Linked DNA regions of Homo sapiens. The protein of the gene in region 1 purifies or fractionates together with the protein of each later gene. This does not show direct contact. Each region holds a gene or a part of one and is shown in the gene's direction. Other genes may lie near its edges.

Evidence for each region. The genes of interacting proteins can lie anywhere in the genome.
Region 2: the proteins of ITLN2 (region 1) and LONP1 purify together in Homo sapiens (co-immunoprecipitation; 2 studies listed by BioGRID and IntAct, with this or other methods). This does not show direct contact.

What each region holds. Positions count from the first base shown.
Region 1 is NC_000001.11:160,951,810-160,959,305, reverse strand, and holds the start of ITLN2 (intelectin-2 precursor), read left to right. Parts: upstream 1-4,496; 5' UTR 4,497-4,564; coding exon 4,565-4,579; intron 4,580-4,855; coding exon 4,856-4,919; intron 4,920-6,572; coding exon 6,573-6,686; intron 6,687-7,496.
Region 2 is NC_000019.10:5,691,326-5,696,166, reverse strand, and holds the end of LONP1 (lon protease homolog, mitochondrial isoform 1 precursor), read left to right. Parts: coding exon 1-113; intron 114-1,265; coding exon 1,266-1,406; intron 1,407-1,614; coding exon 1,615-1,780; intron 1,781-2,397; coding exon 2,398-2,615; intron 2,616-2,704; coding exon 2,705-2,869; intron 2,870-3,958; coding exon 3,959-4,135; 3' UTR 4,136-4,333; downstream 4,334-4,841. Other genes in the region: RPL36 (large ribosomal subunit protein eL36), read right to left, coding at 4,546-4,635, 4,714-4,841. UniProt on the Homo sapiens protein: ATP-dependent serine protease that mediates the selective degradation of misfolded, unassembled or oxidatively damaged polypeptides as well as certain short-lived regulatory proteins in the mitochondrial matrix.

The sequences.
Region 1 (7,496 bases):
TCTCTTGAGTAGTTGGGCCTACAGGTGCAAATCTCCACACCTGGCTAATTTTTTTTTTTTTTAGAGACAGGGTTTCACTATGCTGCCCAGGCTGTTCTGGAACTCCTGGGCTCAAGTCATCCTCCTACCTCAGCTTCTCAAAGTGCTGGGATTACAGTTGTGAGCCACTGCGCCTGGCCCAAAGAAACACTTAATAAGGTTTTGCATTTGATAAACAACTATTTTATATGTACGTGTAAATGTAGGCATTAGCCTTCTTGGAATCACAATATGTTGTTAAGCTGTAATAATTTAAACGACATAGTACTCGTACAAAAATAGATGAATCGACCCTAAGTAAGAACTCATTTAATGCCTACTAAAGGCACTAATTGTGATGAAAGGCGGGGTGGAGTGGCTCATCCCTGTAATCCCAGCACTTTGGGAGGCTGAGGTGGGTGGGTCACCTGAGGTCAGGAGTTTGAGGTCAGCCTGACCAAAATAGTGAAACCCTGTCTCTACTAAAAATACAAAATTAGCCAGGCGTGGTGGCACATACCTGTAATCCCAGCTACTTGGGAGGCTGAGGCAGGAGAATCGCTTGAACCTGGGAAGCAGAGGTTGCAGTGAGCGGAGATCGTTACATTGCACTCTAGTCCGGGCAACCAGAGCGAAACTCCATCTCAAAAAAAAAAAAAAATTATGATGGAAAACAATCCATAAACAATGTTGGGAAAAAAAAATTTGCAAGATGAAGAAAGATCAATTTAGATGTTCACCTCAGATTTACATGAAAATTAATGCCAGAGGTATTAAAAATGAAATTTAAAATATCCAGAATTGGCCGGGCTTGGTGGCTCATGCCTGTAATGCCAGCACTTTGGGAGGCTGAGGCAGGTGGATCATGAGGTCAGGAGTTCAAGACCAGCCTGGCCAACATAGTGAAACCCCGTCTCTACTAAAAATACAAAAATTAGCTGGGCATGGTGGTGCGTGCCTGTAGTCCTAGCTACTCAGGAGGCTGAGGCAGGAGAATCGTTTGAACTCGGGAGGTGGAGGTAGCAGTAAGCCAAGATCATGCCACTGCACTCCAGCTTGGGCAACAGAGTGAGACTTTGTCTTAAAAAAAAAATCCAGAATTTACAAAGAAAGGTACTAAGTGGATAATAAACATTTATGAATATGTAATGGAAGCCTCAGGTCCCCTTTCTTCCAGCTACGTTTTCATTGCCATTCCCAGTAGTTCTGGTACTGCGGGAAAAATCTACTGTAGAAAATTACCCAATTCAACTGAAGAGTGCCAAGGAGACCTATTTTTCTCCTGTGTGTTTCTGCATTTCAGCCAGTTCCTGGGCTCTCATCTATTCCTTATCATCCATCTGTTTGGGGATGCCATTGTTTTTGTCTGGTTTCCTTTGTCCTGTTGTTCTTTCCCAAACAGGACACCACATCTCTTCCTTTTTTCCTCCAAAGCATTGGTAAACACCAAGCTGTTGCATGCATTCTAACTTTTATTGAGTATTTGATGGTGGAAACATGGCTTAGAGTAATTACAACAAAGGGGAGAAAACTGTAAAATTTTGCATTGGCCATTTTCATTCCTAAAATTTTTTTGGATTGGAGGAAGCGTTCATGTGTGTTTTTTAGTACCACCTGGAGTCAATTTCTTTCATTCAACTAATGCATATTGAAGGCCCACTGTGTGCCAGGCATTGTGCATAGGCCTGGACATCTGGTGGACAACCACAGACATAGATTCTGTCTCTATAAAGAAGGAGACAGGTATTAAGCAAATACCTATATAAATACTCAAATAAAAAAATTCAAAAGTTTCAGGAGAAGGAGCTTACAAAATCTTTCCAATAATAGTATCTTAGTATTCAGAGACAAAGGTCCATCAGAGTAGTATGACATCTTCCAGGTTTGTCCTCTATCCTCGTCTCCTTAGATTCCTGTCTGAGTCCAAGAGAGAGACAGACTGCAAGAGACACTGAAAGAACAGTGTCACTGAGGTCACTGAGACACCTGGAGACATGTCCTGGTCTGGTGCCCATCATGGGAGCAGTGAGGCGTTTCCCTTCTCCAGCACCCTATGAGGTGGATGACTTCCATGCCTTGAATAGCAAGAGATGTGCCGGAGGCCTGGGAGTGAGAGGAAGCAGTGCCTTAAACACCAGCAACTTGTCCCGACACCAGATCCAGCATCAGAGGCAGCAGGGATGCCAAATCATACGGTTGGTGTTCAGCTGTGGTGTGTGCCTACTGTGGTTTCAGTAGGCAGTGCTGAAAGGAGTCAGGGTGGGCTGGGAGTATGTGTGGAATGGAGAAATGTTTGTTAGCACACACAAGATGCCCCTTGGGATTATGGACTTAAAAGGGGACCAGAAGTCTCCTTACAATGGGAGGGCATGAAAGCCAGAGAAATTCCTGTCTCATTAATGCTAACTCACCATGACCCCTGGGCTGATGATACTCTAGGGAAGTATCAGTTATGTTAAAAAGAGTTAACAGGCTGGCTCGGTGGTTCACGCCCGTAATCCTAGCACTTGGGCAAGCTGAGGCAGGAGGATCAAGGTCAGGAGTTCTGGAGTAGCCTGGGTAACATGGGGAGACCCCGTTTCTACAGAAAAGAAAAGAGTTTTTTTTGTTTTTTGTTTTTTTTGAGATGGAGTTTCACTCTTGTTGCCCAGGCTGGAGTGCAATGGTGTGATCTCGGCTCACTGCAACCTCCGCCTCCTGGATTCAGGTGATTCTCCTGCCTCAGCCTCCTGAGTAGCTGGGATTACAGGCATGCACCACCACGACCGGCTAATTTTGTATTTTTAGTAGAGACCGGGTTTCTCCATGTTGGTCAGGCTGGTCTCGATCTTTTGACCTCAGATGATCCACCCACCTCGGCCTCCCAAAGTGCTGGGATTACAGGCGTGAGCCACCGCGCCCAGCCCAAAAAAAGAGTTTTTAATAATATGATGTTGATAATTGTACTGTGGTTATACATGACATATTCCTATTATTAGAAAACACACAGTTGGCCAGGCATGGTGGCTTACACCTATAATCCCAGCACTTGGGAGGCCGAGGCAGGTGGATCACGAGGTCACGAGTTCAAGACCAGCCTGGCCAAGATGGCAAAACCCCGTATCTACTAAAAATACAAAAATTAGCTGGGCGTGGTGGTGGGTGCCTGTAATCCCAGTTACTCGGGAGGCTGAGACAGGAGAATCACTTGAACCTGGGAGGCGGGGGTTGCAGTAAGCTGAGACCATGCCATTGCACTCCAACCTGGGTGACAGAGTGAGGCTCTGTGTCAAAAAACAAAACAAAATAAAAAAAACCCATACGCATTTATTTAAAGGTAAAAGCCCATGATGTATGTACCTTACCTTCAAATGGTTCAGAAAAAAATTTTGTGTGTGTGGGTGTATTTTATATACATATATCTATATATATATAGAGAGAGAGAGAGAGAACACGAAAGATAAAGCAAATGGGGTGAAATATTAACAATAGTTGAATCTAGGTAAAGGGCATATATGTGGCTTTATATTATTGTTATTTTTGCAACATTTAATAAATTTCAAATTGTTTCTAAACAGAGTTAATAAAACAATAAAATTACAGCAGGATACATGCAATAATTAGTGTTTGGACAGTGTATAGTGGGACAAAGGAAGGATCCATCAGCTTTGTCTGGTGATGGGGGTGTCAGGGAAGGCCTCATAGAGAAATTGGAGGAAAGATTGGAAGGATGATGTCTTCTTTTCCCATTTATTTATTATTATTATTATTATTATTATTTTGAGGTGAAGTCTTGCTCTGTTGCCCAGGCTGGAGTGCAGTGGAGCAGTCTTGGCTCACTGCAACCTCCACCTCCTGGGTTCAAGCAGTTCTCCTGTCTCAGCCTCCAGAGTAGCTGGGATTACGGGTGCACGCCACTGCACCCAGCTAAATTTTTGTATTTTTAGTAGAGACAGGGTTGCACCATGTTGGCTGGTCTTGAACTCCTGACCTCAGGTAATCCGCCCACCTCGGCCTCCCAAAGCGCTATGATTATAGGTGTGAGCCACTGTGCCTGGCCAATTATTATTCTTAATTAATTAATTTATTTTTCATGAGGTGTCACCTCAGTCTAAAAGGATGATTTCTTGACAGAGTTGTGTCTAGGGGGCCAGGGCATCTGGGGGAGGTGGGAGAGGGAGAACGCAGGGGAGGATTGTGACCTATCCACGAATCTGATTAGATACTGCTACATTGTATGGCCTGCCTTGGCAAAGCAGGATGCCCCTCCTCAGATGGCGACAGTCACCTGTGTGGCCAGGAACACAGCTCCCTGCTCCTCCAGCCAGTCGCACGTCCTTTCTCATTTCCACGGTCCCAGGCTCAGGTACCCTCAGAGGGAAGGGCTTCAGAGGGAGGGGCTAGCAGCCTAGGCTGCTCAGGGTTGGGCTGGGCAGGGCTCAGGTGGTTTGGCTCTCCACAGCTCTCCACATAAAGGGACCAGCACTTCACCCTTCATCAGGATCCTCTGCAGGGGAGCTCCGAGTGTCCACAGGAAGGGAACTATCAGCTCCTGGCATCTGTAAGGATGCTGTCCATGCTGGTGAGAAAAATGTTTTTGATCCATGTGTGTGGGAGCAATGATGCCAGCTCAGGTCTCAGTTTTAGAGATTTAGAGTTTCAGGGAAATGAGCCCATGGCCCCTTGGGTATTTGTAGTGTTGGACAGCCGTGGGGCATATTCCAGGAGGTTTTAGAATGCTCATGAGCCCATCACTTTCCATTTGAGGATTCCTGACTCAGAAAGGTTAGGAAGTAAGAACGAGAGGATGACAAAGGAAGGGCCAGCCAGTGACCTTGTGCATCTTGTTTTTCCTTAGAGGACAATGACCAGACTCTGCTTCCTGTTATTCTTCTCTGTGGCCACCAGTGGGTGCAGTGCAGGTAAATGGCTTCTGAGAGTAGGAGCTGCAGTTTCCTGGGCTCCCCTCTGCTGTGCAGGGCCTGGAGGGAGTAGAGCTGGGCAGGGCTCTGAAGTCAAGGGTCAAAGGGGAAGTTCTGGAGAGGCAGGGAACCCAGGCTAGGCAGCCAACTTGAGGTGTGGACTGGGTGCTGATTTCTGGCCTCTCCTGGGGTCTGGTCTGAAGCAGTCAGGGTGTTAGCTCAGGTATTTCCTAGGGCTTGATTCTCTGCTTCTGTGGCTGTGAGGGGTTCATGGGGTGAGAGAGTAAGAACTGTGTCCCTGCTCAGCTGCTCTTGTGGCCTTGGCCTTGGGATCTCCAGAGGCAGCTGGGTGATCAGTGCTGTGTCCAGGGTACACCCTCCTCTAGTCGCAGAGGAGGATATTGTGAGAATAGAATCCTCACAATTCTATTCTTCCAGTAGGCACAATAGTGATATTTTTTCATTGATACTGGGTTTATTGTTTATTTCAATCCATCAGTTAAAAAAAGCACATTTACATATGTCATCTCATTTGATCTCCATGCGTATAAAGAAGTTATTAATGACATCTTAAAGATGAAGAAAAAGGATCAGAGATGTTAAGTGTCTGCTCAAGGAGGCACTGTCATCAGGGTTTGTCTGGATTTTACCTTGAGTCCTGTAATTTTTTTTTTTTTAGACGGAGTCTTGCTCTGTTGCCCAGGTTGGAGTGCGGTGGCGTGATGTCGGCTCACTGCAACCTCCGTCTCCTGGGTTAAAGAGCTTCTCCTGCCTCAGCCTCCCCAGTAGCTGGGATTACAGGTGTGCACCACCACACCCCAGCTAATTTTTGTATTTTTAGTAGAGATGGGGTTTCACCATATTGACCAGGCTGTTCTTGAACTCCTGATCTTGTGATCCACCCTCCTCGGCCTCCGAAAGTGCTGGGATTACCGGCATGAGCCACTGTGCCTGGCCTGAGTCCTGTAATTTTACACTTTTTCCCGCTCTGCCAGGCTTTTGGAATGATTTCTAGGCTTTTAGACTTATATACATGGCCCTTCATCCACTGGCCTCTGTTAATTTTTCAGCTTTGGTTTCCAGACTTCTTTGTATTACAACATATGTTCCAGCCACAATAAGCGACTGACCTGTAGTTTTTGGCAGGCTGGGCTGGGCTGGGCTCTGTTATTGCTTCAGGCCATCTCATGTGCTTTCTTCTCTTCCTGGGGTGTACTCTCCCCTTTCCTTCCTGTCCTGTAGCCAGCTCCCATTCTCCCATCAAAATCAGCCTGCTCTGAGTTACAGCTGGTCCCTTCCCCAGCAGTTCCCAGGCCTCACCCCCGTTAGTGGGTTTGCCCTCCCATCTCAGTTGGGTCCCTTTCCATGTGCTCCTTCCTTGTAGAATGTAGTCTCTTGAAGAAATGTGTCAAATTGTCTTTGTCCGGTGTCTAGGTAGTTCACACAGTAGGTATTTAATTAAAATTAGTCGAGTGGAAGATTCCAGGTGTTTAACCTATACCAGCTGTTGGATCAGACCGTCTTAGCATAGGGAATCCCTGACCTCCTGGGACTTCAGAGCAGAGTGATGAGTTGATACAGGGGCAGAGATTGGCCAGGAAAGATGGCCTCAGTGGTCAGACTTCTAATGAGACTCATTCTCACATTTTCTAGCAGCAGCCTCTTCTCTTGAGATGCTCTCGAGGGAATTCGAAACCTGTGCCTTCTCCTTTTCTTCCCTGCCTAGAAGCTGCAAAGAAATCAAGGAACGCTGCCATAGTGCAGGTGGTGAGTAATGAACCAACTCAGCATTCTCTCTTTGAAGCCACTTTTTAGCTCAACAGAGCCCAGTCATGGAAATCAGGAGGGACATATCCATATGGAGCCTGTTCTGCCCCCAGCTCCTACTCAAGGAGGTTTCTAGTGGGAATTTTGAGGCTTTTGTGTCCCATTCCAGTCACAAAGTCTTCTGAACACAGAGAGAATGCAGTGTTCCTGGTGATGCTTATGGTGGTGGCAAGAACTGTGATGCGTCTGAGATTTGCCCCTACTTGCCCCAGGTTTATAGATGCTGGCAGAAAACCTGAAACTCCCGAGCCAGAGACAAAGAGCTTTATTAATCACAGAAATAGCAGTAGCCAGAGCATCAGCATTTTCTTGTACTGGGCCAGGTGACATCTGCCCAAGTAGTGGGTTTGTCAAGCTGGCTGACAAATGTGGCTGGCAAGGAAACAACAAACCCTTTTTAGAGCCAGAGAGTTTATTACTCACATAGCTAGCAAGTTCAAGATCGGCAAAAGTGTCAGCTTTTCCCATCCCTTGCCCCACAAGACAGCACAGAAAAGAGGGCGAGTGACAACACAACATGGGCAGTGGCTGAGGAGCCAGTCCATGCTGCCATAGCTGTTTCATAGCCTGTGTACCCTACGGGGTGGGGGTGAGTGAGGCAAAAAGCCTCATACCTCTTCAGAACCCAGGAGATGATGACACAGTTATGACAGCTGTCTCATGACAGCCTCCACGAAAGATGGGAAGGGGGGTGAGAAGTGACCTTGTTGCAGCTCCTCACAAGGTTCCCATCTTTCCATGTTTGGGGAA
Region 2 (4,841 bases), on another chromosome or scaffold:
TGTTCATCTGCACGGCCAACGTCACGGACACCATCCCCGAGCCGCTGCGAGACCGTATGGAGATGATCAACGTGTCGGGCTACGTGGCCCAGGAGAAGCTGGCCATTGCGGAGGTAAGCCCAGCCCCTCCCCACTGCTGTCCCCTTCCCAGAGCAGGGGGCGCCCCCCAGAGCCTGCAGAGGCCGTGCCTCTGGGAGCTCCTGGGCCCGGGAGAGACAGGTGGGACCTGCGGCCGAGGAGCAGATGGGGCCGTGAGAGACACACCAGACGCTTGCGAGCAGCTGCAGGTGGCGCGAGTGGGCGCAGGGTTTAGGGCCTGGGACTGTCCAAAACACCGCCCACCACCGTCAGGCCACACACTCTGTCTCCCGGGGCCTCCAGGCTGCCCCATGGTGGGGCCCCCACCTGGCCCAGAGTGTAGGGAAGGTTTCTGGCAGCCGGAAGCAGTGGGGCCTGTGGCTCCCACCCAGAATGAGGCTTGGAGGAGAAGTGGTTTCAGTGAGGAGCATGCAGGGGCCCATATTTCTCATGTGTTTTTTTTTCTGCAAAGGTGCTGAGTGCATTTCTCCCCTAGGAGCCCTTTGACAGCCAGTGGTGGGCACTGGTCCCTGCCCTTGAGGCCCTCCCAGCATCCTCGTGTCCCCTGGGGGCTTCAATGCCCACTGCTGGGCCCAGTTCCCAGCCTGACTTCTCCAAGGGACGGGCCTGTAGTTCCTGGGGACAGGACTGGGGGGCATGGGGACCCCTCAGGGCATCAGGAGTGCCCCCCAGTATCAGTGGCAGATGTAGAGTGGCTTGCATGGCTCTGTCCGTCTCACAGATGCCCTCCCCCATGCCATTAGAGCTCAGAACTGTGGCAAGAATTGTGTGGGGCTGTGGGTGACCCTGGAGCCCCTGACCCAGTCCCCTTCCTCATGTGCTGAGGGCAGCAGCCACGTAACCAGTCAGCCACCCTACAGGCCCTGGGTCTGTGTATGGGGCCAGCCCATGGGGCAACCAGGAGGCCTTCCTGGAGGAAGCGGCATCTAAGATACCATTGGGGGATAGGAAGTGGATCCAAGCAGAGGACGCAGCACAAGCAAAGGCCTGGGGCCTCTGGGCATGGTGGGTGGCAGGGCGGGGTGTCCAGGCCCTGGTTTCACCATCAGGGACCTCGTTCCCAGGCCAGGGTCTGGGGGCCATGGGAGAGGCATTGGCTCCCAGGTTCTAGACTGAGCTGGTGGGCAAGGTCCCTCCAGACCCAACCCTGACGGTTGCCCTTGCAGCGCTACCTGGTGCCCCAGGCTCGCGCCCTGTGTGGCTTGGATGAGAGCAAGGCCAAGCTGTCATCGGACGTGCTGACGCTGCTCATCAAGCAGTACTGCCGCGAGAGCGGTGTCCGCAACCTGCAGAAGCAAGTGGAGAAGGTGAGCGGCCAGCCCGCCCTCCTGGCACCTGCCGCCCACCTCACCATCCCACGCTGATCACCCCACCTTTCCATGCCCATCATCCCACTTTCCTGCGCCCATCACCCCACCACCCCGCGCCCGTCACACCTTTCTGTGCCCGTCACCCCACCACCCCGCACCTGTCACCCCACCTTCCCGTGCCCATTGTGTTGCCCTGACCGCCCAGGTGTTACGGAAATCGGCCTACAAGATTGTCAGCGGCGAGGCCGAGTCCGTGGAGGTGACGCCCGAGAACCTGCAGGACTTCGTGGGGAAGCCCGTGTTCACCGTGGAGCGCATGTATGACGTGACACCGCCCGGCGTGGTCATGGGGCTGGCCTGGACCGCAATGGGTGAGCGTGGTGGCGGGAGAAGACCCCAAAGCCATTCCCATTTCTACCCGAGAACAAGCAGGTCCCACCTTGTACACCTGTGCAGTGGGCCTCAGGTGGCTCTGAACGGCCTCTGGCGGGGGGTGGTGTGCTGGGAGCCCAGGGGGTCTGGGCTGAGGGAGGGGAAGGCTGTGACACATGGGGGTGGCAGCACACCATGGGCCTTATGGATTTGGGTGCCACTTTGATAGGCTTACAGGTAAGGACAAGCTCATCCAGATGGGCCTTGGGGCCACCACGCACAAAGGAGGCGAGAGGGCAAAGGGGATGGTGCGGGAGGGGCTGGAGAAGGGCTTGTGTCTGTCTGCAGGGCAGCGGCAGCTGGGCCTTGTAGCCCTGGGCGTGTCCTCTGTGGCTGGCAGCTGCTGGGGGCTGCCCTGTGGGGCGTACAGAGCCAGGAACCCGCAACGCAGCAAACGTAGAGGCCAGCGTTGGCTCACGATGGGACACCAACCCCTGCCCAGGGGCACCAAGATGCTAAACTGGGGCAGGAGCGGTCAGAGTGGCCCCGAGGGGTGGAGTGAGCACCGGCCTGGGCTCCGAGGCCTCCCGTGTTCACAGCTCCACACCTGTTTCAGGAGGCTCCACGCTGTTTGTGGAGACATCCCTGAGACGGCCACAGGACAAGGATGCCAAGGGTGACAAGGATGGCAGCCTGGAGGTGACAGGCCAGCTGGGGGAGGTGATGAAGGAGAGCGCCCGCATAGCCTACACCTTCGCCAGAGCCTTCCTCATGCAGCACGCCCCCGCCAATGACTACCTGGTGACCTCACACATCCACCTGCATGTGCCCGAGGTGACCGCGCCATCCGCTCCCACCTGCTCCCGCCCAGTCCCTGGGCTGCTGGCCACCTGCTCACCCACTATCCCCACATGCCTCCACAGGGCGCCACCCCCAAGGACGGCCCAAGCGCAGGCTGCACCATCGTCACGGCCCTGCTGTCCCTGGCCATGGGCAGGCCTGTCCGGCAGAATCTGGCCATGACTGGCGAAGTCTCCCTCACGGGCAAGATCCTGCCTGTTGGTGGCATCAAGGAGAAGACCATTGCGGTGAGTGTCCCTGTACCCACCCCACAGCACTGGCAGGGCCCACACCACCACGGGACAGGCCCAGTCCCCGCCATGCAACCTCTGCCTGGGCCAAGGAGAGGGAAGCCCTGGGCTTTGGAAGCAGGTCTCTCTGGCCTGGAGCTGGCCTTAAGCTCACCGCCCTAGCTGCCTTCTCCACAGCAAGTCTTGTGGAGAACATTCTGAGCCTCCACTGGCTTCCCCAGTAGGATTGGGGGGGTGGCTCCTGCTTCTCTTCCCAGGCAGCCCAGCGCCAAGGGAGAGGCTAGAGATGGGGACGACGTTTAGGATTACTGGTGGCGGGGGTGTTTGGAGCCCCTGGCCAGGGGCTGGCCTCTTCCAAGGGTGCTGAGCAGGTTGGAGCGCCACTGTCCCCACTCTTCCCTCCCATCCCTGCCTGTCCCCAGACTGGACCACACTTGCCATGTGTCTAGGAAGCCTGGTGCAGTCAGTCAGGAGATGCCACCACGAGGGAGGCATGGTCAAGTGGCTGTGACCACCTTGAATTGGACACCAGGCACAGACTTCCTAGATGATAAAATGGTGGAGGCAAATTGGGAGGCTCACTGTCCATGGAGTCAGTGTGCGGTGACAGTGGGAACTGCTGTCCTTTCAAGGGGCTGTGGTGGGGCTGTGCCTGGCATCTACTCCAGATATGTGTAGCCTCCGGAGGTGAGGGGGGTGACGCAGGGCCTGGGGGCAGAGATGCAGATGCTCACAGGAACCCTGTTCAGGCCCCAGACACTGCCTGACCTCTGGATGTGAGGCCGTGGGTGTGTGGCTCATCCAGAGCCCTGAGACTGCTCCCACCGCACGGCCAGACTTCCTAGATAAGGGGGTGGGGAGGCCCTGGCTCCTGCTCTCAGGCTGTTGGAGCCAAGGCCAGTGGTTTTGCCTTGAGCCTGTTTCCCCGTGGGAGACGGGGACCCTGGTGGGTTTTGGGACTTACTGCTTAGAACCCGGCATCACTGTGTATCGCCGGTCCCCAGGAAGCCCTTTCGTTCCTGGAGGTTAGCACACCTGCTGCCCTCCCACAGGCCCAGGCAGGGCTGACCCTGACTCTGCCCCCAGGCCAAGCGCGCAGGGGTGACGTGCATCGTCCTGCCAGCCGAGAACAAGAAGGACTTCTACGACCTGGCAGCCTTCATCACCGAGGGCCTGGAGGTGCACTTCGTGGAACACTACCGGGAGATCTTCGACATCGCCTTCCCGGACGAGCAGGCAGAGGCGCTGGCCGTGGAACGGTGACGGCCACCCCGGGACTGCAGGCGGCGGATGTCAGGCCCTGTCTGGGCCAGAACTGAGCGCTGTGGGGAGCGCGCCCGGACCTGGCAGTGGAGCCACCGAGCGAGCAGCTCGGTCCAGTGACCCAGATCCCAGGGACCTCAGTCGGCTTAATCAGAGTGTGGCATAGAAGCTATTTAATGATTAAAGTCATTTGCAGTACGGCGGCTTCCTCACCTGCTGCCCCGGGAAGGGTGGGCGGGCCACGGCTTTTGATTCACGACCAGGCAGCACCCGGAGAGGGTGTGGCTCAGAGCGGGCACCAGACAGGGGACTGCGGGCCCCCGACACACCCACACCCACCCACGGACAGCAGGAGAGCCAGGGCTTCTGTCAAGCTGTTCTTTATTTCAGGGAGAGGGCAGGGGAGGGGCTCAGTCTTTCTTGGCAGCAGCTTTCCTCATGGCGGCCAGTACGTTGCTCAGCTCCTCCCGCTTCCTCTTGGCGCGGATGTGCGTCCCCACCTGCCAGGGACGAGGCCGCCGTCAGCCCGGCCCTGACTCCCATCCCACCCCGCCCCTCGGCCGGCAGCGCCCACCTACCCTTTTCTTGATAAATTTGAGGGCCCGTTTGTCCTTGGAGACCTTCAGTAACTCCATGGCGCGCCGCTCGTACGGGGCAAAGCCACACACCTCCCGAATCATGTCCCGCACGAACTTGGTGTGTTTGG